7 linked regions of the Homo sapiens genome follow. The protein of the gene in region 1 purifies or fractionates together with the protein of each later gene. This does not show direct contact. Each region holds a gene or a part of one and is shown in the gene's direction. Other genes may lie near its edges.

The links.
Region 2: the proteins of LHX4 (region 1) and TSC22D4 purify together in Homo sapiens (affinity purification with mass spectrometry; 2 studies listed by BioGRID and IntAct, with this or other methods). This does not show direct contact.
Region 3: the proteins of LHX4 (region 1) and CYFIP2 purify together in Homo sapiens (affinity purification with mass spectrometry; 2 studies listed by BioGRID and IntAct, with this or other methods). This does not show direct contact.
Region 4: the proteins of LHX4 (region 1) and ABI2 purify together in Homo sapiens (affinity purification with mass spectrometry; 3 studies listed by BioGRID and IntAct, with this or other methods). This does not show direct contact.
Region 5: the proteins of LHX4 (region 1) and SMAD4 purify together in Homo sapiens (affinity purification with mass spectrometry; 3 studies listed by BioGRID and IntAct, with this or other methods). This does not show direct contact.
Region 6: the proteins of LHX4 (region 1) and THAP12 purify together in Homo sapiens (affinity purification with mass spectrometry; 3 studies listed by BioGRID and IntAct, with this or other methods). This does not show direct contact.
Region 7: the proteins of LHX4 (region 1) and ABI1 purify together in Homo sapiens (affinity purification with mass spectrometry; 3 studies listed by BioGRID and IntAct, with this or other methods). This does not show direct contact.

What each region holds. Positions count from the first base shown.
Region 1 is NC_000001.11:180,236,764-180,240,263, forward strand, and holds part of LHX4 (LIM/homeobox protein Lhx4), read left to right. Parts: intron 1-3,500. UniProt on the Homo sapiens protein: May play a critical role in the development of respiratory control mechanisms and in the normal growth and maturation of the lung. Binds preferentially to methylated DNA.
Region 2 is NC_000007.14:100,472,715-100,476,214, reverse strand, and holds part of TSC22D4 (TSC22 domain family protein 4), read left to right. Parts: intron 1-1,774; coding exon 1,775-1,941; intron 1,942-3,500. Other genes in the region: TSC22D4-C7ORF61 (uncharacterized protein LOC122198330), read left to right, coding at 1,775-1,941.
Region 3 is NC_000005.10:157,272,623-157,276,122, forward strand, and holds part of CYFIP2 (cytoplasmic FMR1-interacting protein 2), read left to right. Parts: intron 1-3,500. UniProt on the Homo sapiens protein: Involved in T-cell adhesion and p53/TP53-dependent induction of apoptosis. Does not bind RNA. As component of the WAVE1 complex, required for BDNF-NTRK2 endocytic trafficking and signaling from early endosomes.
Region 4 is NC_000002.12:203,394,394-203,397,893, forward strand, and holds part of ABI2 (abl interactor 2), read left to right. Parts: intron 1-306; coding exon 307-453; intron 454-1,262; coding exon 1,263-1,387; intron 1,388-2,391; coding exon 2,392-2,574; intron 2,575-3,500. UniProt on the Homo sapiens protein: Regulator of actin cytoskeleton dynamics underlying cell motility and adhesion. Functions as a component of the WAVE complex, which activates actin nucleating machinery Arp2/3 to drive lamellipodia formation.
Region 5 is NC_000018.10:51,064,713-51,068,212, forward strand, and holds part of SMAD4 (mothers against decapentaplegic homolog 4), read left to right. Parts: intron 1-710; coding exon 711-894; coding exon of another isoform or gene 895-901; exon of another isoform or gene 902-1,033; intron 1,034-2,306; coding exon 2,307-2,475; intron 2,476-3,500. UniProt on the Homo sapiens protein: In muscle physiology, plays a central role in the balance between atrophy and hypertrophy. When recruited by MSTN, promotes atrophy response via phosphorylated SMAD2/4.
Region 6 is NC_000011.10:76,364,133-76,367,632, reverse strand, and holds part of THAP12 (52 kDa repressor of the inhibitor of the protein kinase), read left to right. Parts: intron 1-1,660; coding exon 1,661-1,781; intron 1,782-3,200; exon of another isoform or gene 3,201-3,295; intron 3,296-3,500. UniProt on the Homo sapiens protein: Upstream regulator of interferon-induced serine/threonine protein kinase R (PKR). May block the PKR-inhibitory function of DNAJC3, resulting in restoration of kinase activity and suppression of cell growth.
Region 7 is NC_000010.11:26,770,459-26,773,958, reverse strand, and holds part of ABI1 (abl interactor 1), read left to right. Parts: intron 1-2,869; coding exon 2,870-2,884; intron 2,885-3,500. UniProt on the Homo sapiens protein: May act in negative regulation of cell growth and transformation by interacting with nonreceptor tyrosine kinases ABL1 and/or ABL2. May play a role in regulation of EGF-induced Erk pathway activation. Involved in cytoskeletal reorganization and EGFR signaling.

The sequences.
Region 1 (3,500 bases):
TGGGACGCATAGGGACTTGGAACCAGTTTAGCTGAAGAGAGGACAAAAGGAGTAATATTACCCACTTTGAGAAACCCACGGTTGGAGACAGACTGAAGCAGCAGTTTGCTGTGGCAGCACCAAATACATGGCTGCATAGACGGCTGAATTTGGAGAGGGCTGGCTGGGGTGCCGTTGAGGCGATTTTACTTTTGTAACAATGTTTTGCCTTTCTCCCTTCCTGGAATGAGTGTTAACAATGCCCATAACAGAGATGTGGGCAAATAGGGTCCACTGCTTTTAGTAAAATTCCATCGCGGTCTGGTGGCTTGAATTTCTCTTTCTTCCTCCCTCCTTCTCCTTCCCCTGTTCCCCCAATTTCTTCTGTCTATCCCTTCCTTCCTTTGCAAAATCTTTGCAGGGAGAAACATGGGATAGTGCAGGAATTCACGACACAGGGGTTTTACTCGGCGGGGGGGGCGGGGAGGAGGGCGGTCGTGTGTCCAGCAGGCTGCACCGTGGTGGAGCCATCTCTCTTTCTAGGCGCCCTGGGAGGGAAGCACAGGTGCTGGGTATAGGACAGAAGCCGCCCTGGAGCTGGGCTCTTATTGTCTGTGGTAGGAAGAAATCAACTAAAATTAGATGCCACTGTGAGGTTTTACCTTATTTAGTCCTCAATTTTATAGGATCCCTGATCAAAATGGAGCACAAGTCAACCATTTTGAGGCATTGCTTTTGGGGGTAGGTGGACAGGTTGGGTTTAATTGGTGAAAATGAAATGGATTCTCCCTTGGAAAATGGACTTTGGGGTTAACTGTATGAGCGGCTGACTGGAAAGTCGTCTTGGGAGGTGAGTCCTACCTCCTGCTGTAATTTTGGTGGATTTCTTTTCTCAGATCTCCCCACCCTGTTCCCTCTGTCAGTCTGGGTCTAGCCACAGATGTTTAACTGCAGTACCTCACCCCCACATGTCTTTAAAGTATAATTTGCTTTAATTATGATGTTAGGGGGTTAAGAGATTGGTTCTGGGAATAGCTTAATAGAGACAAAACTTGCAGCCAAATTAATTGAAAGTTTCTTGCTATGAGGGAAAGATTGCCAAACATATGGAATACTGTTACAGAGTGAGACATTAGAAAAATACATTGTAGAGATTTAGCAATGATTAAATGTGAAAATGGAGTGGAAATAGACGTGTCTACAACATTTCCATACACAAACATGGATTTGCTTAATGTAATTTTCTGTTTTATTTGCAATTACTGAGATATATGATATCCTACTGAAGAATACTAATTACGTGACAATATATCACCTAGGAGATAATCCCTGCAAATACATATTTACATTGTGTATTTCATTTGTTACTCGACTCCTTATGTTAAAATATCCAAATTACAGCCTTAAAATGATAACATCGAAATTATCTCCAGTTTACTTTTGAATTTGTTCTTTTATTGAAGAGGTTTCTATTTTTGACTAAGCCGAAAAAGAACAAAGGAGATTTTCAAAGGCACCCCAAGCCACCAAATAAAGCAAACAGTAAAAGTGGGAAGGATTCCGGAAAGCAAGTGAAGGGAAAGGACAGCTTCAGGTGTGATCATTTCTGATGTAAGAAGGATTTTCTGACTTTTTTTCTGGTTGCTAGTCATTTGTCAAGACAAACTAGAAAAAACTAGAAATTAGATAAAAAGACGTGAGTACACTGATGCATTTTAAAACATGTCAGTGCATATGATGATAGAGAATATGATTTACCTTCAATGCGATGCTAATTTTTAAAATTAGAATTTTTCTAATATTTTTGTGGCTGGCCCAGCTCTCTTTCTTTAATGCTGCTGTCATCATTGATGTTCAATGTGCCTTTTCTCTTTATGTTTTAAAGAATTAATGTTGGAATTTTGTGCTTTAGCTGTGTTATGTGATTATTACTAGGTTGTGAAAATCCCTTAAGAGGAATTTTATAAAAACATTTTGGAAAATTCTGTTATTGTCTCTTCAAGATACGCTGATTTAGAATAAGTGAAAATATAAAAACGAGAACTATAAACGGTTCAACAAAAATGAATGTTCTTTAATGACAAAGAGCCAGGGTTGGGGGGCGGCACACACCAGATTTGTCATGGAAAACTGAGTCGTGGGCCTCAGGTTTTCCCTGCGTGGGGACTGCATGGATGAATCAGGCCTTCTTCCTTTGGTCACAATTACCAGGTGATTTAAAAGGGGAATTGTGACCAGAAAACAGGATTTTATCATCAGCGGTGATGGTGGCTACTTTGAAATGGAAAGTTTTATTTTTGAAATATTTATCCAGTAATAGACCTCTTAGTTAATTTAATTTTAATGTAACTATACCTCCGTTATAAATCTTTGACCTGGACATTTCAGAACTCAGGTATGTGTTTAGGCAGGTGTGCCACAGCTTGGTATATCCTGTAGCTTCACCTTGTTGATGCATTTTAGAATTAGTTATTCCCCGACTAAATCAATGAGCCCCCCACTGACAGTATTTCCCAAGCCTGCCTTTAGAAAACCATCTTCCTTCTTTCTTACTCAGGGAACCTGAGGCAACAGAACAGCAATGTCTGCAATTTGTTGTTTTCTCTTCCTTACATGTGGGAAAGGAATGGAAAATTTCAAGAAAAACATTTGCATACTATTTCAGTTGCATATGTGATTCCTTAAAGCCCCATTTGGCGTCTCCTTTCAGTTAGTAGTCAGTAAAGAAACTTAACAAATAAATAAAATTAAACGTTTTTGGAAATACATATTGGCCAAATGTTATTTGAGACAGAGCTCAAAAAACTGCTTACTTCTGGAGGGAAATCACCAGCAAAAAGGTTTTGGGCAAAAATCCCAGATGGAGGTGGCTTTGATTGAGCACAGGTGGAAGCCATCAGACCCAGAGTAAAAGAAGGTTTAGTCCTAATTCGGCCTCAAACTGTGTACCCGTAGGGAAGCCCCTTATTCTCAGAACCTTTTAAACGTAGACAATGAATGTCCGCTTCACAGGGTGTCTGGGAGGAGGGAATGAGCTTGCCAATTTGAAAGTACTTGACCAAGTTTGGAGTGCTGGTGGTCTTAAGGCACTCAGAGACTGGGATCACAGCTCCCATTTCACAGACACAGCCGCCCCTGGGAGCACTGCTGGCTGTCCCAAGAGGATGGCCACCTGAGGGGGAATACTGTGGGGTCTGCAAACAGGGAGACCCGGAAGTGGCTCCCATGGACCCAGCTCCTTTTCTCGAAAGGAGCAAGAAAAACCTTGTCCTGAGCATTAGGCTGTCAAGTCAAAGCATGAAACAAAAAGAACACTTCATCCAGAAGGCAGTTAAAAAGCAAAGGGAGTTAAAAAGCAAAAGCCTCACAGGAGGCACATCAAGCTGGCACATCAAAGTACAAACTTTACAAAATATTAATCTGGTCTCAGAGCATCGTTAAATAAACATTATTCCCTTTTAAAATTATTATAATAGAGGTAGGGGCTCACTATGTTGCCCAGACTGGTCTCGAACTTCTGG
Region 2 (3,500 bases), on another chromosome or scaffold:
GCATTCAGCACCCACCCCAGGGGAGAAGATGCTGTTTCTCTTCCTGTCCTGTCCCCAGACTCTTCCAAAGCAAACCCCCTTGGCCTCCAGCTTCCCTGCTCTCTGTCCTTAAGCCTGGCCTGAGCTTCTCTTGGGGCCACAGACCCTGCCTCTCTCTCTCAGTGCCCCCTACTCCCCAGCCTTCCCCCACCTCCTGACGGTCTTCTGTTTGCACGCATCTGTTTTGCTATTTCCTTGCCCAAAAGTCTGTCTCCCTTCCACGTCCCCTCATGCCTCTTCTCCCTCTTAACAGAGGGGAGTGGTGGAGAAGGGCCAGGGGACACCACCTGGGCCCCCTTCCTCTGCTCTGTCCCTTAACCACCCTGGACTCTCTGTTCTTGGCTTTTCTGAGAAGCTGGGGCCTCCCGGGGCCTCACAGAGGCGTCTTGTCATGTTCCTGTCGCCCCCGCCCTTTTTGCTGCTGCCCCCAGAGCCTGTTGGGCTATGCAGGTCCACGCCCAGGCTCCGCCTCCCCCCAGCTCCACAACCAGCTCCCCCCCCAACCCTAGGGCAGAGCGCAGGAGCAGAATTCCACCTGAGTCCGAGAAGTTTGAGAGGGGAAGCGAGAGTGGGGGGTGGGTGAGGGGATGGAGGAGCAGTTTCTGAGGATCCATTCATTCTACAAATAGCTACTGAGCAAACTGACCTTCTAGCAGGGGAGAGACACAATAAATACTTTAATTTCAGATAATGTTAGGTGCTATAAAAAAATGAAATAGTTCAGTAAACCAGTGAATGATGGGGAAATGCCTCTCTAAGAGGTGACATTGGAGTCATTTTAAGAAGGCAGCCTGGGTGCAGTGGTTCACGCCTGTAATCCCAGCATTTTGGGAGGCCGAGGCGGGCAGATCACTTGAGGTCAGGAGTTCAAGACCAGCCTGGCCAACATGGTGAAACCCTGTCGTCTCTACTAAAAATAAAAAAATTAGCCAGGTGTGATGGCAGGTGCCGGTAGTCCCGGCTACTCAGGAGGCTGAGGCAGGAGAATCAGTTTAACCTGGAAGGCATAGGTTACAGTGAGCCAAGATCACGTCACTGCACTCCAGCATGGGCGACAGAGCGAGACTCCAGTAAAGGCACAGGCTGGGAGTGGTGGCTCATTCTTCCAGCACTTTGGGAGGCTGAGGCAGGAGGATCACTTGAGCCCAGGAGTTTGAGACCAGCCGGGACAACATCTTGAGACCCTGTGTTAACCAAAAATAAAAAATTAGCCAGTTATGATGGTGCATGCCTGTAGTCCCAGCTACTCGGGTGGCTGAGGCTGGAGGATCGCTTAAGCTCAGGAATTCAAGGCTGCAGTGAGCCATGATTGTGCCACTTCACTCCAGCCTGGGTGACAGAGTGAGACTGTCTCAAAAAAATAAAAATAAAACATAAAAGAAGGCAGACACGCTGCGTAGCCTCTGATTAGGGGTCCCGGCCCAGTGGGAGCTGGGGCATTGGAGTCTATTCTGGGTTCCTCCGTCAGTCACCCCCTCCTCCCACTTGGGAGACTCTCTCTAATGTCCTATACACCACTCCTCCCATTCCTTAGGTTGACCCACTTCTTGCTTCTAGTACCTGCCTAATGCCTTCTCCAGAGCTGGAGGAGGGAAGGACTGCGGGGACAGGACTCCTGGGTCCTCGAAAGAGAGTGGGGAGGTGGAGAGGGAGGAAGGCTAATAGGCAAGTTTTAAGGCAGCTGGTTCCTTTCTTTTCTCTTTTCATGTGATGGTTCCTACCTCTCCGCCTCCAGGTGCCCCCACTTGACTCTCGCCCCAGCTCCCCAGCCCTCTACTTCACCCACGATGCCAGCCTGGTTCACAAATCTCCAGACCCCTTCGGAGCAGTAGCAGCTCAGAAGTTCAGCCTGGCCCACTCCATGTTGGCCATCAGTGGTCACCTAGACAGCGACGATGATAGGTAGGTGGGCTTCGTGGGGTGGTGGGGCGTGGGGTTCAGGTTCCCCGCCCAGCACCCGGGGTAGCTGTAAGAAAGTGCCTGGTAGGCATCCTTCCCCCAGGTTGAACTTGGAGAGGACCTCTTAGAGAAACCTGGCCTGGGCATAGCCACTGCACACAGTTGATTTCGGACCCACTCCCTCTCTGTGGAGAGGGCTGGGTGGGACTCCCTGGCTCAGAACTGTCAGGTCACAGACTTTTTTAGAGTCTGAAGGGAGTCATTGTTGTCAGATTCCAGAGCTCTTGCAGATTTAGAGATCATCTGGCCAACCCAGGAACCCACTGGCAAATGCATGCTCTAGACAGAATAGCAAATCAGGCCGGGGCACAGTGGCTCCCGCCTGTACTCATAGTGCTTTGGGAGGCCCAGGCAGGAAAATTGCTTGAGGCCAGGAGTTCAAGACCAAGCCCTGGCAATGTAGCGAGACCTCATCTCTAAAAAGAAAAAGAAAGAAAGAAAAAAAAAATATATATATATATACATAAAGGAAGTAGGCTGGGCATGGTGGCTCATGCCTGTAATCCCAGCACTTTAGGAGGCTGAAGCGGGCAGATCACCTGAGGTCAGGAGTTCGAGGCCAGCCTTGCCAACACGGTGAAACCCTGTCTGTACTAAAAATACAAAAATTAGCCAGGCGTGGTGGTACGTGCCTGTAATCCCAGCTACTCAGGAGGCTGAGGCAGGAGAATCACTTGAACCCAGGAGGCAGAGGGTGCAGTGAGCCGAGATCGCACCACTGCACTCCAGCGTGGGTGACAGAGCGAGACTCCGCCTCAAAAAAAAAACAACAAAAAAAACTGAAAAAGAATGGAAATCAGTTTCCTCCCAGTTCCATCTCCCTCTTTCTCTCCTAACAAAGGACTGGGACTCCCTAACAGCACCTGTGGAGCGTGACATCCTGATAGCCCACAGGGTCTACTTTAGGATCCTAAGATTTCTAGAACCGAGAAAGCAAGTCCCTAAGATGGGCCAGCTAGGAACAGAATCAGAGCTAGGAACGGCAAAGGGGCAGGGGCAGCACTGCAGAGAGCGACTTTCTGGGGTTCTCCCTTTAGGGGACAGTGCTCTGTTGGGTGGGTTTTCAGGGCCAGGTGTCACCATTCCTAAGAAAGCCAGCAAGCTGAAAAGGGAGGCCCAGAATCGTGAGTCAGAGATAGCCAGGCTGCCTGCTTCTCCCCGGGGACTGATAGGAACCGGGCAGAAGGGCTGGGGAGTCACCGCTTTTCTTTTGGAGGGAGAAGTGGGACTTCCCGTGGGAGGTTTTCAAGGGGAGGGACTTCCTGCTTGGAAGGAAATTGGGGGTGGGGCTTCGAGAGTGGGTGAGTGGGTGCCTGAGGGACCAATTCCAGATGGGAGTCGCTCCTTCCTGTCCTCCCCAGATCAGGGGCCACTCGCTGGGATCAGGGACTCAAGCCCACCACTGATAGGGTCCTGCGGCCTCAGGGAGGATAGGGACCTGGCAAAGGAGGTGGCCAGGAGCTGGTGGGACGGAGGGCAAGAGTGCCAGTGCTGGGTGGGGC
Region 3 (3,500 bases), on another chromosome or scaffold:
TACTTCCTGCTGTGATGGATGGAGATTTCACTTTCTTACACCATCTCCCTCCCTCCCCTGCCCCCGTCTCTCAAGATAGGAAGAGCTCTATTTTAACCTAAATCAGGTTTAAAGTGTCTACATTATTAATATATATAAATGATGATCACAGACAGCCAAGTAAAGTCCTTTGATTATATTTCCTTTCTTAGAGGGCTTTTCATTTCGCTGCAGAATTTTTGTTGCAATACTTGTCTTTTTATTTATCTATTTATTTATTTTGAGATGGAGTTTCACTCTTGTTCCCCAAGCTGGAGTGCAGTGGCGTGATCTCAGCTCACTGCAACCTCTGCCTCCCAGGTTCAAGCGATTCTCCTGCCTCAGCCTCCCGAGTAGCTGGGATTACAGGCGTGTGCTATGACACCTGGGTAATTTTTTAATTTTAGTGGAAATGGGGTTTCACCATGTTGGTCAGGCTGGTCTTGAACTCCTGATCTCAGGTGATCCACCTGCCTCGGCCTCCCAAAGTGCTGGGATTACAGGCACGAGCCACTGTGCCTGGCCCTGTCCTTTTCTTTTAAAGCTCTGTGTCATATGAGTTATTCTATTGCAGTCCCTTGTCTTCTCAGGAAGTGCAGTGTTAACCCTAGCTCCACCCCTAACTAGCCCAGTGACCTTGCACAAGTCCCTTCTCTTTTCTGAGCCTTGGTTTCCTCATCAGTAGAAAGAGAGCTAGGCTCCCTTCTTGTTCTCATTCTAAACCTCAGAACCTATCACCCCACCCACCTCACAGGCAGTAATATTATTACTCCTCAGTTAATATTATCTGAGAAGTCTTTACTCCAGGGTGGGGCAGCCCCAGGACCTGACAGATGGCAGAGAAACCAAAACAGGCAGGGGCAGGGGGAGGGAACAAACAAGCTAGCTGGGCCTGCCCTGTATGGTCTAGTTCACCCCTGCAGTTTAGGGGGCTGCTCTGTGGGGTGGTATGGTTGTATCTATTACTCTTTTCCTCCCCTGCTATCCCCGTTGGTTTTTGCTCTCCACAGCCTCTGCTTGTAGGGGCATCATTTACAGTCCCCAAACTCCCCAAGCTCCTACTCTACCCCCAGCTCTCTTTGTACCCCTTCTGCTTATGTTACACTCAAAGTTTCCCAAAAAGTAGTTATAAAAATACTAACTTTTGGTAGCAGCTTTATTGAAATATAGTTTGCATACTGTACAATTCACTCATTTAAAAAATATAGTTCAGGGCAGGCATGGTGGCTCATGTCTGTAACCCCAGCACTTTGGGAGGTCAAGGTGGGTGGATCACCTGAGGTCAGGAGTTTGAGACCAGCCTGGCCAACATGGCAAAACCCTGTCTCTACTGAAAATACAAAAATTAGCCAGGCATGGTGGCAGGTGCCTGTAATTCCAGCTACTCGGGAGGCTGAGGCAGGAGAATCGTTTGAACCCGGCAGAGGTTGCAGTGAGTGAGATCATGCCATTGCACTCCAGCCTGGGGAACAAGAGTGAAACTCTGTGTAAAAAAAAAAAAAAAAAAAACCGTTCAGTGGTTTTTAATATATTCACAGAGTTGTACAACCCATAATCGTAGTCAGTTTTAGAGCATTTTAGCACCCCAAAAAGAAATCTCATGGCCTTTAGCACCACCACCTATTTCCCCCAACCCCACCCCTTGGCAACCATAGATTTGCCTATTCTGGGCATGTTTAATAAATGGAACAATACAATACGGGGTCTTTAATGATTCGCTTCTTTCACTTAGCATAATATTGTCAAAGTTTATTCATGTTGTATCAATATCAGTACTTAATTACTTTTTATGGCTGAAAAATACTCCATGTGGCTATACAATTTTTTATTTATCAGTTGATGCATATGTTAGTTCTGCTTTTTAGCTATTACAAATAATGGTGCCATGAACATCCATGTACAAGTTTTTGTGTGGACCTGTATTTTCATTTCTCTTGGGTGTATGCCTAGGAGTAGAATTGCTGGGTCAAATGGTAACTGTGTGTTTAAAAATTTGAGGAAATACCAATCGATTTTCCAAAGTTGCGGCACCATCTTACATTCCCATTAGCAACGGTATTCTCAGTTTCTCCACATCCTTGCCAACACTTGTTATTGTCTGTCCTTTTCATTATAGCCATCCTAGTGGGTGTGAAGTGGTATCGATTTGCATTTCCCTAATAACTAAGGTTATTAATCTTTCTGTGTGCTTATTGGCTATGTGTATATCTTTGGAGAAAAATCTGTTCCTTGCCTATTTTTAAAATCAGGTTCTCTTTATTAATGAGTTTTAAGAATTCATTTTTTAAATTTATTTTTATTTAAAAAAATTTTTTTGTAGAAACAGGGTATCACTCTGTTGCCCAGGCTGGTCTTGAACTCCTGGCTTAAGCGATTCTCCCATCAACCTCCCAAAGTACTAGGATTACAGGCATGAGCCACTGTGCCCAGCCAAGAATTATTTACATATTTTATATACTTAGCAAATACATGATTTGCAAATATTTTCTTCTATTCTGTGGACTTACTTTCTTGATGGCGTCCTTTGAAGCACAATTTTTTTTATTTTGATGTTTAGTTTATTTTTTATTTTGTTGCTTGTGTTTTTGTTGTTATTACATAATTCAAGGTCACAAAGATGTACTCTTATGAGTTTTATAGTTTTAGCTCTTACATAGATCTTTGATCCATTTTGAGTTAATTTATTATATATTACATTATTTATACCTCACACCATAAAACAAATTTTGCATGTGGGTATCCAGTTGTCCTAGAATCATTTGTTGAAAAGAATATTCTTTCTACATCTCTTGTCAATTGACCATAAATGTGAGGATTTATTTCTGGATTCTCAGTTCAATTCCATTAATTTAATCATTGTTCATTGTCTTCATGGTAACACCACACAATTTTGATTACTGTAGTTTTGAGTATGTTTTGAAATCAGGAAGTGTGAGTCTTCCATTTTTGTTCAGTTCCTCCCACCCCCAAGATTGTCTTGATTATCCTGAGTGAGTCCCTTGAATTTCCATATGAATTTTAGGATCAGCTTGTCAATTTCTGCAAAGAAACCAGATGAGATTTTCATAGAGATTATGTTGAATCTGTAGGTTAGTTTGGGCAGTATTGCCGTGTTAACAATATTAAGCCTTCCAACCTATGGACATGGGATATCTTTTTATTTATTTAGGTCTTTAATATTTTCAACAAGGTTTTATTGCTTTCAGAGTGTATGTTTTGTACTTATTTTGTTAAGTTTATTTCTAAGTATTGTATTATTTTTGATGCTACTATAAATAGAACTGTTTTCTCCATTTTATTTTCATATTGTGCATTGCTGGTATATAGAGATACTACTGATTTTTATATGCTGATATTGTATCCTACAAACTTGCTGAACTTGTTTATGACTTTCAATAGTTTTTAGTGGATTTTTCTTGGATTTTCTATAACAAGACTATGTTATCTGCAAATAGGAATAGTTTTACTTTTTCCTTTCTAAT
Region 4 (3,500 bases), on another chromosome or scaffold:
AGAAGAGGTAGGGTCTGGGAAACATTGGCTTAAATGGTAGAGAACCTTTGTGCTCTTTGAGAATAAATGAACAAAATTGCATTAGCACAGGGAAATGAGGTTGGAGACTGAAAAATAACAATATTCACCAAAACCCTAATGGTGGAGAAGTGATACATTAGTAAAGACTGAAATTGGTAGCTGGGTTATGTTAAAACACATTTCCTATCTCTGATTACAAATTGTATCTCAACTGCTGGCAACTCTTTGAATTTATTGTGCCGAAACTTGCTTAATCATACAATACATACGCTCTTCTTTTTGTAGGCGGCACTCCCCCTATCGCACACTGGAGCCAGTGCGTCCTCCAGTGGTACCAAATGATTACGTACCTAGCCCAACCCGTAATATGGCTCCCTCGCAGCAGAGCCCTGTGAGGACAGCTTCTGTGAATCAAAGAAATCGAACTTACAGGTATTTTCTCTACCTCAGTGCAAAATGTGATGGTCATAGTACCATAATCTGTTCAGATTACTTCAGGTAAATCTCTCATTTTCCAAGCACTAAGTTCTTTTCCTCACTCTATTCTCCCAAACCTCATCTGATTTCACCTCTCTCTCCTCATGTTCTGATTCAACTTTGAGCAGTCAGGAAGTTGATAAAGAACAGACATCTCAAAGTGCAGACTTCTCTCCAAGTTTTAAGAGTTCAGTTGATCTGGAAAAAAAATTATGGACCAAATGTGGGAAATGTCAGGTTGTTTTTTGGTGGAACTTTACAGATGAAAAACTATACATAATAAAACATTAATATGGGATAGTACATCAGAGTATGATTATTAATTAAAATTACTCAAATCTGTTTAGGAAAATGTTTTTGTTTTATTATAAAAGAAGTTTCTTCAGATAGGCATTAAACTGGAATATAAAAAGGCAATATTTATTGTTTTAATGTGTTAAACCTCAACATTTATCACTTGTATTTATGGATAATTTTTTCAAAATGTGGTCAAAACAAGCTTATTGAACTCAGTTTTCCCCTCAACTTTATTAATAAGTAAATATATATATATATATACACACACACACACACACACACACACACACACACACATTTTTTTTTAACCTGTCACTGACTTGGAGCTCAAGGAAATTTTATTTTGAAGTGGTACGCTTTTGAATTACCTTTATTGTAGCTACATTCATCTCAGAAAATGTCGGGAAGTGCTGATGATCTCTTACTGTTTATAAATACTCATGTTTTGGTGGCTCTTATTTCTTTAGCAGCAGTGGGAGTAGTGGAGGGAGCCACCCAAGTAGTCGGAGCAGCAGTCGAGAGAACAGTGGAAGTGGTAGTGTGGGGGTTCCTATTGCTGTTCCTACTCCATCTCCTCCCAGTGTCTTTCCAGGTAAAACATTCATGGTGCCTCGTCTTCACTTTTCCTTTCTGAATTTGATTCAATTTGTGATTTAATTATGGTGGGCTTTCTTCGTAATCAGGATTTTTTTTCTTTAGGAATCATAAATATTGGGAAGTCTATATATTTGTTATTTGTAAGCAAGTGATTTGTAAGTGTTTGCTCACTTTGCACTTCTCTTTATGCCTTTGGTGATGTGGCTCAGTTGCTGCTTTGAGGTTTCAGATCACACTTTGTTATGAGTACAAGTTTAATTCCAGCTAGTGTTATGACAGTGCAGTCTTTGGACACAGTGGGAACTCAGTGTGAGAACCATATTAGTAACAAAGGATTGGGCAGATATAAAAAGTAGTTTTGACAGTTAAATTTAGTGGCTGTATTGGAATTTAGTAGTCTCTGAAAATACTACCCTCTTTTCTCTGAAACAGAAAAATCTGCTTATTTGATTCGAGGAGATACACACTTAAAACTTAGTTTTGAAAACGTGACACAAAATACATTAATAGAATGTTACATACTTAATTTACTTATAGTAACAAGTAGATAATGCCTTTTAAAAATCATAAAGATTTGTGTTTTAAAAAAAATTTTTAATCTGATAATATGGAATATGTCTATTTTCTGATTTGTGTAATTCAAAATGGAAAACTGTTGTTTTTTAGTGTATTATGTTAGTTTTGTATACTATATACAGAATGTTATGCTAAAAATAACAATACGAAGGGAACACTTTTCTTCTGGAGTAGTGCTTTCAATTGAAAAGGAATGTTTGTTTTTAATGAATTGAAAAAATCTGCACATTACCCTGAGCATCTTGAATTATTTGCTGCTTATATAGTAATCCTTTAGCATAAGTTTTATTCTTTTTTTCAACTCTGTTCTTTTGGTTAGTGTTAAGCACTGAATATCTAACATTAAATACTCTAATACCTTTTCTAATCCTGCCTCATGTGATTGCCTCATTAATGCTGCCTCTTACTCCTCTTTCCCCTCAGCCCCTGCTGGCTCTGCTGGCACTCCTCCCCTTCCTGCTACTTCTGCATCTGCCCCTGCTCCTCTTGTTCCTGCTACTGTCCCTTCCTCCACTGCCCCAGACGCTGCTGCTGGGGGTGCCCAGACCCTTGCTGATGGCTTCACTTCTCCAACTCCCCCTGTTGTTTCTTCCACTCCCCCTACAGGTAAGTATTTGCTTATTCATTGGCAGGCAGATGCAGTCATCTGGCTATTCTCTTACTTGCACCTCTGATTTTTGTTTGTTTTTGGTTTTGTTGTACTTCGTATTAAAAAAAAATAAGAATAATGTACTAACCAGAAAGTATGTGACCAAAGATTAGCATTTCCTGAGAAAATTGAGGTAAAGTTTCTCATACATTTTTCCAATAGGGTAGCATAAATTTGTGTTTTTTTATTGCTTGAATTTCATTTATTAGAGATTTTTAAGTTTAATATGGAGCTACCTTCTATACAGTTTTTGGAAATTATCATTAGAAATATTTTCATTATAGGTTAAGTGATTAACAAAAGTCTATTACAATAATTCTAAGGTATATTTTATAGGAAATATTTGATACAACAAATGGAAAGCCTCTGTAAGTCTATTTTTAACAGAATCTGTTGCTTATTATAGCAGCATTGGAAACTCATAGACAATGGACTTTTAAAGAATTTCAGGTTTATTTAAGTTGGCTGGTGTTTTAAAATTGCAATCTAAAATCTGTTTTGATTGGGGAGGAGATAGACTCAATTGCTACGAAATATATTTGTAGAGTTAATGATGCTGGCTAGTAACAGGTTCTTGTCTGCTATAAAATGTATGTGTTTGGACATATATCACTGTATTAGTCTGTTCTCACATTGCTATAAATACCTGAGACTGGGTAATTTATGCAGAAAAGAGGTTTAATTGGCTAACGGTTCTTCAGGCTGTACAGGAAGCATGATAGTGGCATCTGCTTGGCTTCTGGGGAGGCCTCAGGAAACTTACACTCATGGCCTAAGGCAGAGGGGAAGCACACTGGTCACGTGGCCAGAGTAGGAGCAAGAGGACAAGGCGGGAGGTGCTACACACTTTTAAACAACCAGATCTCATTATTGCAAGAACAGC
Region 5 (3,500 bases), on another chromosome or scaffold:
CTCCAAAGTTAAAATTGTGGTAGTTAACATGACCTGACTTCACTAAAAATACCTTTTGCTATGGCATAGGTGGGACAAATGACCTTCTACCCAAGAGACAGTTGAGAATCTGTGTGTACAACAACTGTGTGATTAGAGTATAATTAACCTTAACTCAGGGATGGGATAGCTGACTTGCTTATGCACTTTCTCTCAATTAGGGAATCTATAAAAATATGTCATGAGTCGATGTTATTCAAGGACAGTTCCCTGGAATACATCTTAGGGTCAGTGTGTTTTTAAAAAATAAAAGTTGAGACTACATAGAGAATATGTGTAGTCAAATGAAATACCATGGTAAAATAATTTATTTTAGATTCTGATTATTTCTGTTCTTTAAATTCTCAGTTGACCTGGTCCTTTGAGGTAAGAACCAAATTCCAGATTTTAAAAAATGACTTTTAGAACTTGAGGATAAGTGGTAATTGGAAATTAAAAAAAAAAATTAGTGTTTTAAGAACAGTGCTAAGTACTGAGCTAGAAAATAGAAGACATGGAAATTCCTACCTTTTAATGCATTATGTTATTTTAATCCAGTTGTTTTGGGTGCATTACATTTCCATCTCCCCTCCCTTTACCCTTTCTTTTAGGAAAAACTGTGTTGTGGAGTGCAAGTGAAAGCCTTATATCTTTCTCATGGGAGGATGTTCTTTCCCATTTATTTCCTATAGCTCCTGAGTATTGGTGTTCCATTGCTTACTTTGAAATGGATGTTCAGGTAGGAGAGACATTTAAGGTTCCTTCAAGCTGCCCTATTGTTACTGTTGATGGATACGTGGACCCTTCTGGAGGAGATCGCTTTTGTTTGGGTCAACTCTCCAATGTCCACAGGACAGAAGCCATTGAGAGAGCAAGGTATTGATTGTATAGTCAGATAGTTACTTTAAAAAATTGAGCATAGTACATTGTCTTTTATTCAAGGTTATGTTTTCCCATGTACATTATATGTGTTCTTAAATATAAATAAAGGAATAAAGGTCATGTTGAAAACTCAGAATTTGTAAGCACTCCATCTTAATTGTCGGTGTTTTTGTTGTTTAACATATAATGATAAAAGATAGCCTTTTTTATGTTAGTAGGTTTCTATGTTTCGAATAGTAAGTATACCTTTTGAAATTCAGTTTGAAAATTTTATTTTCTGTGATCATACATTTCTACAAATTACTGAAAGGAAGTAATATTAAATGAGAACATGTTTCTGAAAGTTTTACTTATAATGTTAAAAAAATTGGTAATAAAAGGGAAATGGTTAAGTAAATTATGATAAATTTTTCCTTTTTTATACAGTCATTAAAATGTTTAAAAGTTTATATAATGAGGCTGGGTGCGGTGGCTCACACCTATAATCCCAGCACTTTGGGAGGCGGAGTCAGGCAGATCACTTGAGGTCAGGAGTTCGAGACCAGCCTGGCCAACATGGTGAAACCCTGTCTCTACCAAAAATTAGCCATATGTGGTGGTGTCCACCTGTAATCCCAGCTACTCAGGAGGCTGAGACAGGAGAATTGCTTGAACCCAGGAGGTGGAGGTTGCAGTGAGCTGAGATCGTGCCACTGCACCCCAGCCTGGGTGACAGAGTGAGACTCCATTTCAAAAAAAAAAAAAAAAAAAGTTTATATAATGAAATGGAAATGCTTACAGTGAAATATTACAGGAACATTCCATTTTAGCTACTGTATGATCTCGGCTTTTAAGGATGTGTGTGCTAAAGAACATAATCTTGGCTCTATCACTTGCTGTCATGTGACTTTGGCAAATTACCTAACCTCTAAGCCATTCTGCCTAATAGAATTTTCTGTGATGAAGAAAATGATTTATATTTGCACTGTCCAGTTCGGTAGCCACTAGCCACATGTAACTATTGAGCACTTAAATTATAGCTCACTTGATTGACTAATCGGATTTCTAATTAGTTTTAATTTAATTTAAATAGTCACATGTGGCTAGTGGCTATCAATTTGGACAGTATGCCTTAGTTTCTTTATCTAAAAAAATTAGAATAATAGTACTTGTTGAGTTGTAAGGGTTTAATGAGAATTCATACTACATGCTCCTGACACATAGTAAGTGTTGTAAATATGTGCATCATTATTAGATATGAACAGGAAAAGAAAAAAGGAAATATACAAAAATGTTAATAGCTATCTTTTGGTTTTATGTGATCTTTATTTTTAATTTTTCAATATTAAGCATGCTATACAATCTGAACTAAAATTTAATTTAAAATACTTATCAAGATAAAATGTAATTTCTTTTTTCTTCCTAAGGTTGCACATAGGCAAAGGTGTGCAGTTGGAATGTAAAGGTGAAGGTGATGTTTGGGTCAGGTGCCTTAGTGACCACGCGGTCTTTGTACAGAGTTACTACTTAGACAGAGAAGCTGGGCGTGCACCTGGAGATGCTGTTCATAAGATCTACCCAAGTGCATATATAAAGGTTAGTTACAATTTTATTTGAATATTTTAGACTTAAAGCTCTATTTGTTGTCAAAAGAATTGAAATCTGGGTGGAAGGAATGGAAAAATGTTTTATATATTAAATAATAAGAAATTGTGTTTAAGTATAAAAAACACATTTTCTGAGGGCATTTATTGACATTATCAGTAATCTAGTTTTATCGTTGCCAATTTGTTACATTTTGTTTTTTATTTTATTTATTTATTTATTTATTTATTTTTGAGACAGAGTCTTGCTCTCGTCGCCCAGGCTGGAATGCAGTGGCGTGATCTCGGCTCACTGCAACCTGCGCCTCCTGGGTTCAAGCAATTCTCGTGCCTCAGCATCCCAAGTAGCTGGGATTACAGGCACATGTTACTGTGCCTGGCAATTTTTTGTATTTTTAGTAGAGACGGGGTTTCACCATGTTGGCCAGGCTGGTCTCGAACTCCTGACCTAAAGTGATCCGCCCAACTTGGCCTCCCAAAGTGCTGGGATTACAGGTGTGAACCACTGTGCCAGGCCTGTTACATGTTTTAGAGTAATACAAAGGCTCTTGAAAATACTGAGTGAAGCCTCCAAAGTTGTATTCCTGTAACTTGAAATTTGTAAGAATCAGACTCTGGACTTTCATCTTAGCCAATCTTCAGGATTTTATGGAAGAGAATTCTAAAATTAATAGCTTTTCAAATTAAGAACCTGATAAGCCTGAAATATTTTTCACTAGTTATATATTCAACCTGTTTGAATTTTACTTTATAATATAACCTGTTTTTGAAAGAGAAAGGCAGTTGTAATTAGATAGCCTAAATATATTTTTAATTGTGTGTCATCCTCAACATTTTCATTGTCAGTGATTGTAAATTGGTAGAATTAACTGTGTCTCATAACTTATTACCAGGAAGTTGCTTAGGATAAAAATAATGTAGCCCCATAGCATCCATAAAAATGGAATTGCCTGATTACCTCACAACAGCAAACCCAGTTTCTCATTTCCAGTTATAGTTCAGTTAAAGAATGTTGGA
Region 6 (3,500 bases), on another chromosome or scaffold:
TAGCCAACGTGCTGAAACCCCATCTGTACTATAAATACAAAACTTAGCTGAGTGTCGTGGTGCACGCCTATAATCTCAGCTCCTTGGGTGGCTGAGGCAGGAGAATTGCTTGAACCTGGGAGGCAGAGGTTGCAGTGAGCTGAGATCACACCACTGCACTCCACCCTGGGCTAAAGAGCAAGACACCATCTCAAAAAAATAATTTGTGATACTGTTTATCCACGGCAGAACTTTTATTCTTAGAAATTTGAGGAATGGGCCGGGCGCGGTGGCTCACGCCTGTAATCCCAGCACTTTGGGAGGCCGAGGCGGGCAGATCACCTGAGGTCGGGAGTTCGAGACCAGCCTGACCAACATGGAGAAACCCAGTCTCTACTAAAAATACAAAATTAGCCAGGCGTGGTAACGCATGCCTGTAATCCTAGCTACTTGGGAGGCTGAGACAGGAGAATCGCTTGAACCCGGGAAGCAGAGGTTGCAGTGAGCCAAGATCATGGCATTGCACTCCAACCTGGGCAACAAGAGCAAAACTCTGTCTCAAAAAAAAAAAAGAAAAGAAAAGAAATTTGAGGAAAGATCTAGTTGTGACTTTAGCAAGTTACTTAATATTTCTGTGCCTTCATCTGCACAAGGGGGATATTAATAGTACCCATCTTTGGAAAGGACTTAGAACGTGTCTGGCTCATAATAAGTGCTTATTATTAGCTTTTCTGAAAATATTTAAGCACCGAGAGGGCATGGACTTTGTCTTGTTCTCTGTCTTCAACACTTTTTGTGTACTAGATTGTGTAGTCACAGTCCCTGCATTCATGGAGCTTGCAATCTAGTCAGCACGTATTACTGTAGATAATAATTTGTGTTCATAGGAAGATAAACGAATACAGCCTTTATGCTTCCCTTAGAAACTAGTTATTTAAAGAACATCTAGTTGCTGATTTTTTTTTTTTTTTCCGAGACGGAGTCTGGCTCTGTCACCCAGGCTGGAGTGCAGTGGCGCAATCTCGGCTCACTGCAAGCTCCGCCTCCCGGGTTCACGCCATTCTCCTGCCTCAGCCTCCCGAGTAGCTGGGACTACAGGCGCTCGCCGCTTCGCCCAGCTAATTTTTTGTATTTTTAGTAGAGACGGGGTTTCACCGGGTTAGCCAGGATGGTCTCGATCTCCTGACCTCCTGATCTGCCTGCCTTGGCCTCCCAAAGTGCTGGGATTACAGGCGTGACAACACGCCCGGCCTAATTGCTGATTTTCTACAGTGACAGTGTTGTTTTGTATGCTTGTTGAAGTTGAAATCCTGAAGGGAATGTTAAGCTGTGAGCCTTGTGGCTGTGCATGCAGCTTTCTGCTTGTTCTGCTGATGGTTGAATCTTCTCTGATGTTTTGGGAGTTGGAAGATGCAGGTTTCAGTTCTAGTTCTGCTGATGATTTTGTACTTCCCTCCAAACAAGTTACTTCTTAACCTTGTCTGTAATTGAAATGTTGGTACTAAATGACTTCTAAGGTTTTTTCCAACTGTTATTTTGTTATTAATCAAATTCTCCAAATTATGTTCTCAGGGAGGGGAGCAGGAATCCGTTGTTATTAATGTATGTTTGCCTTAAAACTGAAGGCTGAAATTTAAATGCTGAGCTCATTTTCATAATTGTATTTTGGTTTTATTTATAGATGCCAGAAGTGGGTGGAGAACTGTAGGAGAGCAGACTTAGAAGATAAAACACCTGATCAGCTAAATAAACATTATCGATTATGTGCCAAACATTTTGAGACCTCTATGATCTGTAGAACTGTGAGTAATAGAAGAGCTTGGTGTCTCTCTGTTTGACTTGATTTCTCTCTCTCACTGTGTCTGGTTGGAAATGTAAGTATTTACCAATGTTGGAAGGTATTCCTATATCCTGCCACTTTAAGATGAAGACAGATTTGGAGCTGAAAAGTATCTGTTTTGTTCTTAAAATCCTGATTTTGCCGGGGGCCTATAATCCCAGCACTTTGGGAGGCCGAGGCAGGAAGACCACTTGAGCTCAGGAGTTTGAGACCAGCCTGGGCAACATGGCCAGATGCCGTCGCTACAGAAAATACCAAAAAAACTAGCGAGGTGTGGTGACGTATGCCTGTAGTCCCAGCTACTTGGGAAGCTGAGATGGGAGGATACTTGAGCCCATGACGTCGGGGCTGCAGAGAGTTGTGTTCATGCCACTACACTCCACTCTGGGCGACAGAGTGAGCGCTTGTCTGGAAAAAAAACTCAAAATGATTAAAACAAAACAAAACAAAACAAAACTCTTCGGTTCCTGGTGCCCCATTTCTACTCACCCAAGGTAACTACTTTTTTTTTTTTTTTTTTTAAAGACAGTCTTGCTCTGTCACCCAGGCTGGAGTGCAGTGGCGCTATCTTAGCTCACTGCAACTTCTGCCACCTCCCCCACCTCCTGGGCTCAAGCGATTCTCTCTCCTCAGCCTCCCAAGTAGCTGAGATTACAGGCATTGTGCCACCACGCCCAGCTAATTTTTGTACTTTTAGTAGAGGTGGGATTTCTCCATGTTGGCCAGGCTAGTCTCAATCTCCTGACCTCAAGTGACCCGCCCACCTCGGCCTCCCAAAGTGCTGGGATTACATGTATGAGCCTCCACACCCGGCTGAGGTAACCACTTTTAAATATTATTTAGTCTTCAGGAAAATTTTAGATGATTATAAAAGTATATGTTTATTTAAGGTAAAGTTGGTGTTTTTATTTGGAGCTCTTTAGAGCTTTTTTATGAGTAAAATTTTCATCTCGGAATGGAGCTCTTGTTTTCATGTTTTTGTATGTACTATTAGAACCAACTTTTAATTTTTATGTGGTAGATATAATGGTAAACAAATTATCCAGGTAATGTGGAAAAACATTTTCATCAATAATATGTAATTTCATATCAGGACCTACTGTTAACTGTGTGAGCTTGGCCAAGTCACTTCCCCTCTTTGGGCCCCAGTTCCTAATAAGGAGATTAGGCCAGGTAATTCCTGAGTTCTAAGATTTTTAACCCTCTGTGATTCTCTTGCTGTGATTTATAAAAGGCACAAATAAGGCAAATTTGATTGAAATGAAGCAGACTTGTTTCAGTGTAACTAATGTAACACCTCAGATATTGGGATAGACATAAACTTGATTCAAAGGTACACTATATGTTGTTATGCAGCAATTTATTTTGATATTTTTTTCAGATACATTTTGCAGAGGCATCAGAAAACTAAAGAATGATTGGGTTATTTTATTTCTCAAAATTAATTGAAGCAGATACTTGTGAAGTCATTGGGAGGTGAGCCAATTCCGGTTCAACAGTTTAATCACAAATATTTGAGGAATATTTTTGCCTTGATTTGTTAAAAGGGTAATAATGATCAACCAAAATAAAAGGTTTCATATGTTTAAAAGGCAAACTACTTTTATGTTCTTGACATGAAGTAAAAATATCCCAAATTATTTTAAATACATTTGCCATATGCATTTTTGCATTTTTATTT
Region 7 (3,500 bases), on another chromosome or scaffold:
TGATCTAGGAGTTGTTAGATTTTATTATTGGTCTTAAAAGATAAGCTTAGATGTGTTACTTTTTTTGGAGTTTTAGTTTACAGTGATTCATGAATCGGGCAGCTTCAGACCACAGGAGACATGAAGCAGGTAGAAGTTCAAGAAAGCAAGACAAGCAAAATATTTGATTGGTTAGAAGTTAATTGTGGTTTCTGATTAGTAAAGTTCCTAGTTAGAGGTTAGTTGGAGGTTTCTGATTAAGTTTCTTTTAATTGTGTTTTGGTTTGCCTAAGTAGGAACCCAGAATGCTGGAGCCGTCTCAGCCTAATGGTCTCAGCCTAATGGCTTTCTGATTAATTTTTTTAAAACAGTGTAGAAACTAAAGCTTTATAATGTTTACATAGGAAGATTTTTTTTTAATTTTTATTTTATAAAGCAGAGGAGTGAGTTAAGAATCATTTCAAAGAAAGAATTGGCCTTGGCTGGGTGCAGTGGCTCATGCCTGTAATCTTGGCACTTTGGTAGGCTCAGGTGGGAGGATCACTTGAGGCCAGGAGTTCGAGACCAGCCTGGCCAACATGGTGAAACCCCGTCTCCTAAAAATACAAAATTTAGCCAAGCATGGTGGCACACAGTTTTAATCCCAGCTACTTGGGAGGCTGAGGCAGGAGACTCGCTTGAACCCGGGAGGCAGAGGTTGCAGTGAGCCAAGATTGAGCCACTGCACTCCATCCTGGGCAACAGAGCCAGCAAAAAAAAAAAAAGAATTAGCATTAGACATTTAGTGCCTATGACATACAAAACTATGATGTACTTAGAAGATAGGGAGGAATCAAAGGGAATTTCAAACAGATTCCAGGCAAATGGTAAAATTACTCATCCATAAAGGTAAATGTTAAGGAAACAAAGTGAGATTTTTTTAAAAAGAGACAGGGTCTCACTGAAGTGCAATAGCTCAATCACAGCTCACAACTTTCTAGGCTCAAGTGATCCTCCCTCCTCAGCCATCCAAGTAGCTGGGACTACAGGTGTGCGCCACTATGCCTGGCTAATTTTTTATTTTTTTTTTTCAAGAGAAGGGGTTTCGCCTTGTTGCCCAGGCTGGTCTCAAACTCTTGGGCTCAAGCAGTCCACCTGCCTTGGCCTCCCAAAGTGTTGGGAGTTACAGGTGTGAGCCACCGTGCCTAGCCTGAAATGAGATCTTAAGGAAATAAAAAAGTTTCATTTTGGATATATTTTGGGGATATTTAAATAAAAAATTTTATAGATTTCTAACAAAAATATTAGTATTTTGAGGTGTAAGATGTAGAGGTTATTTCCTACTAACACTTGCCAACATTGACACATCTGCATGTCTAATAACACTTAATAGAGGAGGCCGAACTTCATAAGAGGTTAAAGCTTATACCATTGCATAGTAGCACAGAGTTCAAGTAGAATTTTCATTCCCAATCTAATTCTTCTTTTATTCTTTCCATTTGGGACCAGCTTATACTTGAATGCTAATTTTTTTGTTTCTTATCCACTTGAAATGACAAATGAAGGAAGATATGTGGACATATTTAGAATATTTTCTTGGTTATTTTAGGATAGTATTTAGTATTATGTATATACATTATAAGATATACATTGCTATGTAAGTATATACTATACATGTATAGTATATATCATAATACAGATACTGAAGTATACATTAGTGTATTTTATCTTCAAGGATCCTAATAATGTTATACTCAAAATTTATTCTCTAGATGTGAAATGTCATGGTTAGGTAGGGTACCAGATGTTGTTTCCAGATAGAAGTAAGCAGTATCATTTTAAACAAATATTGAAGTGTACCAAATTTCTCGCACAGTTTCTATAAATGAGAATGTATCCAAAAGACACCAAATCTCTCCTTTGGATGATTTCCTTTGATACTGCCTTGTGGCCACCTGAAAAATGGTAGTTACTTGTTGAGAATGTCAGATGTTATTTAAAAAAAAAAAAAGCTTGAAGCCCCCAAATCTGTAAAAAATTAGACTCTAAAACCTGAAGATATTTTTTTTTAGTGGCATTGTACAAGTAGTGATGCTTTAGGACTACACATTGTTTCATGTTGTGTAGGCTAGTCAGCTTTAATAGAAGTAGCCTTTAGGATCAAAACAACTTTTCTTCAACTTTGAATTTTGACTTAACTGGCTCAGATGAAAACTTAGAACTAAAGCTACTTAGAACTTCCTATTAGTGTTGGCCTGCACAGGATTGGGGTTCAGAAGCTAGGAATGAGAGAGTTTTCCAGACCCTGTTTGTTTATTTCTTAGTTAGAATCTGGCTAAGTTATCACTGTGCATGATGAATTTGTTTTTAAACATCGAGATACTAGGTCCTTTTTTCATTTTTGGAAGCAATCTGTGGTTTTGAATTTTAATGTTTGCAGTTTATCACTTTTTAAACTATACTACCATTGAAGTAATGAATACTCATACTTGGACATTCATTATCCAGTAAAGTGTTAGGTCTCATGCACCGATATGTTAAAATAGCTTCACATCTAATGTGTTATGGTGTTTGTATTTAAATGAGCGTATTTTTAAAATCATCTGTTACTCGGTTGGATTAGTTCCATAGGACAAAATACTGACTTAAAAAATCATTGAGCCTGCATGAGATTGGAATAATTAAGTGGTGGTTTCCTTATGAATATAATTCTTTTGAAAAATACATGAAACACATGAGTATTTCCCCAGTACGTATGGATCTCTTTTTCTTTACAAAGTAGTTGAAACATGGCTGGAAAAAAGCTTATTAACATGAATTGAGTAACTGTAAATGTAAACCTGTCCTATCGGATATAACTTACCTAGCATTAATGTCTACTTTTTCCCCCCCTTTTTTTGCCAACGTAAAGTGGCTAAAAGCCAAGGTAAGAGCCATTACTTATCATTTGATCCACAGTATTTCCTCTGTATTGATAGAGGCTGCAGAGCCACTAAAATTTGAAAACTCTTCTTATGTCTGTCTGCTTTTCCCTGTAGGATTTATGTAGATTATTTAATACTCAAGTTCAGTTCAAATAAGCAACATTTAGCTTGGCTGTGTTAATATATCAATGATATATTGACATCTGTGTTTATATAGGAACATTAATTTTGCTAACATTTATTGCTTTGCTCATTTTTCGATAGTTGCCTTGCTTTCATTGACTTACAATTAGGAGGTTTCCCAGACATCATATGTGACTTTGTTACTGAATTGTTAGGATGAAGATGATTTTTCAGATGCGTATTTGAGCAAATTGACAAGTAAGATCTATAGTTTGTGTTCATGCACACATTTCAAAAATTTTAGGAAACCCAGTGTTTGAATGCAGATAAGTTTGATCTCAGTGAACATGTTTAACAATAAAATAAGATATTAAATCCAGTCATCTCACCTGTATTTGGCTACAATGTGATATAAATGGCATAAAATAATAGGAAGACCAAGTGCAAGTGGTTCCTTGACTTTTTAAACTGTAGTACCAAAGTCTTTATTCAAAC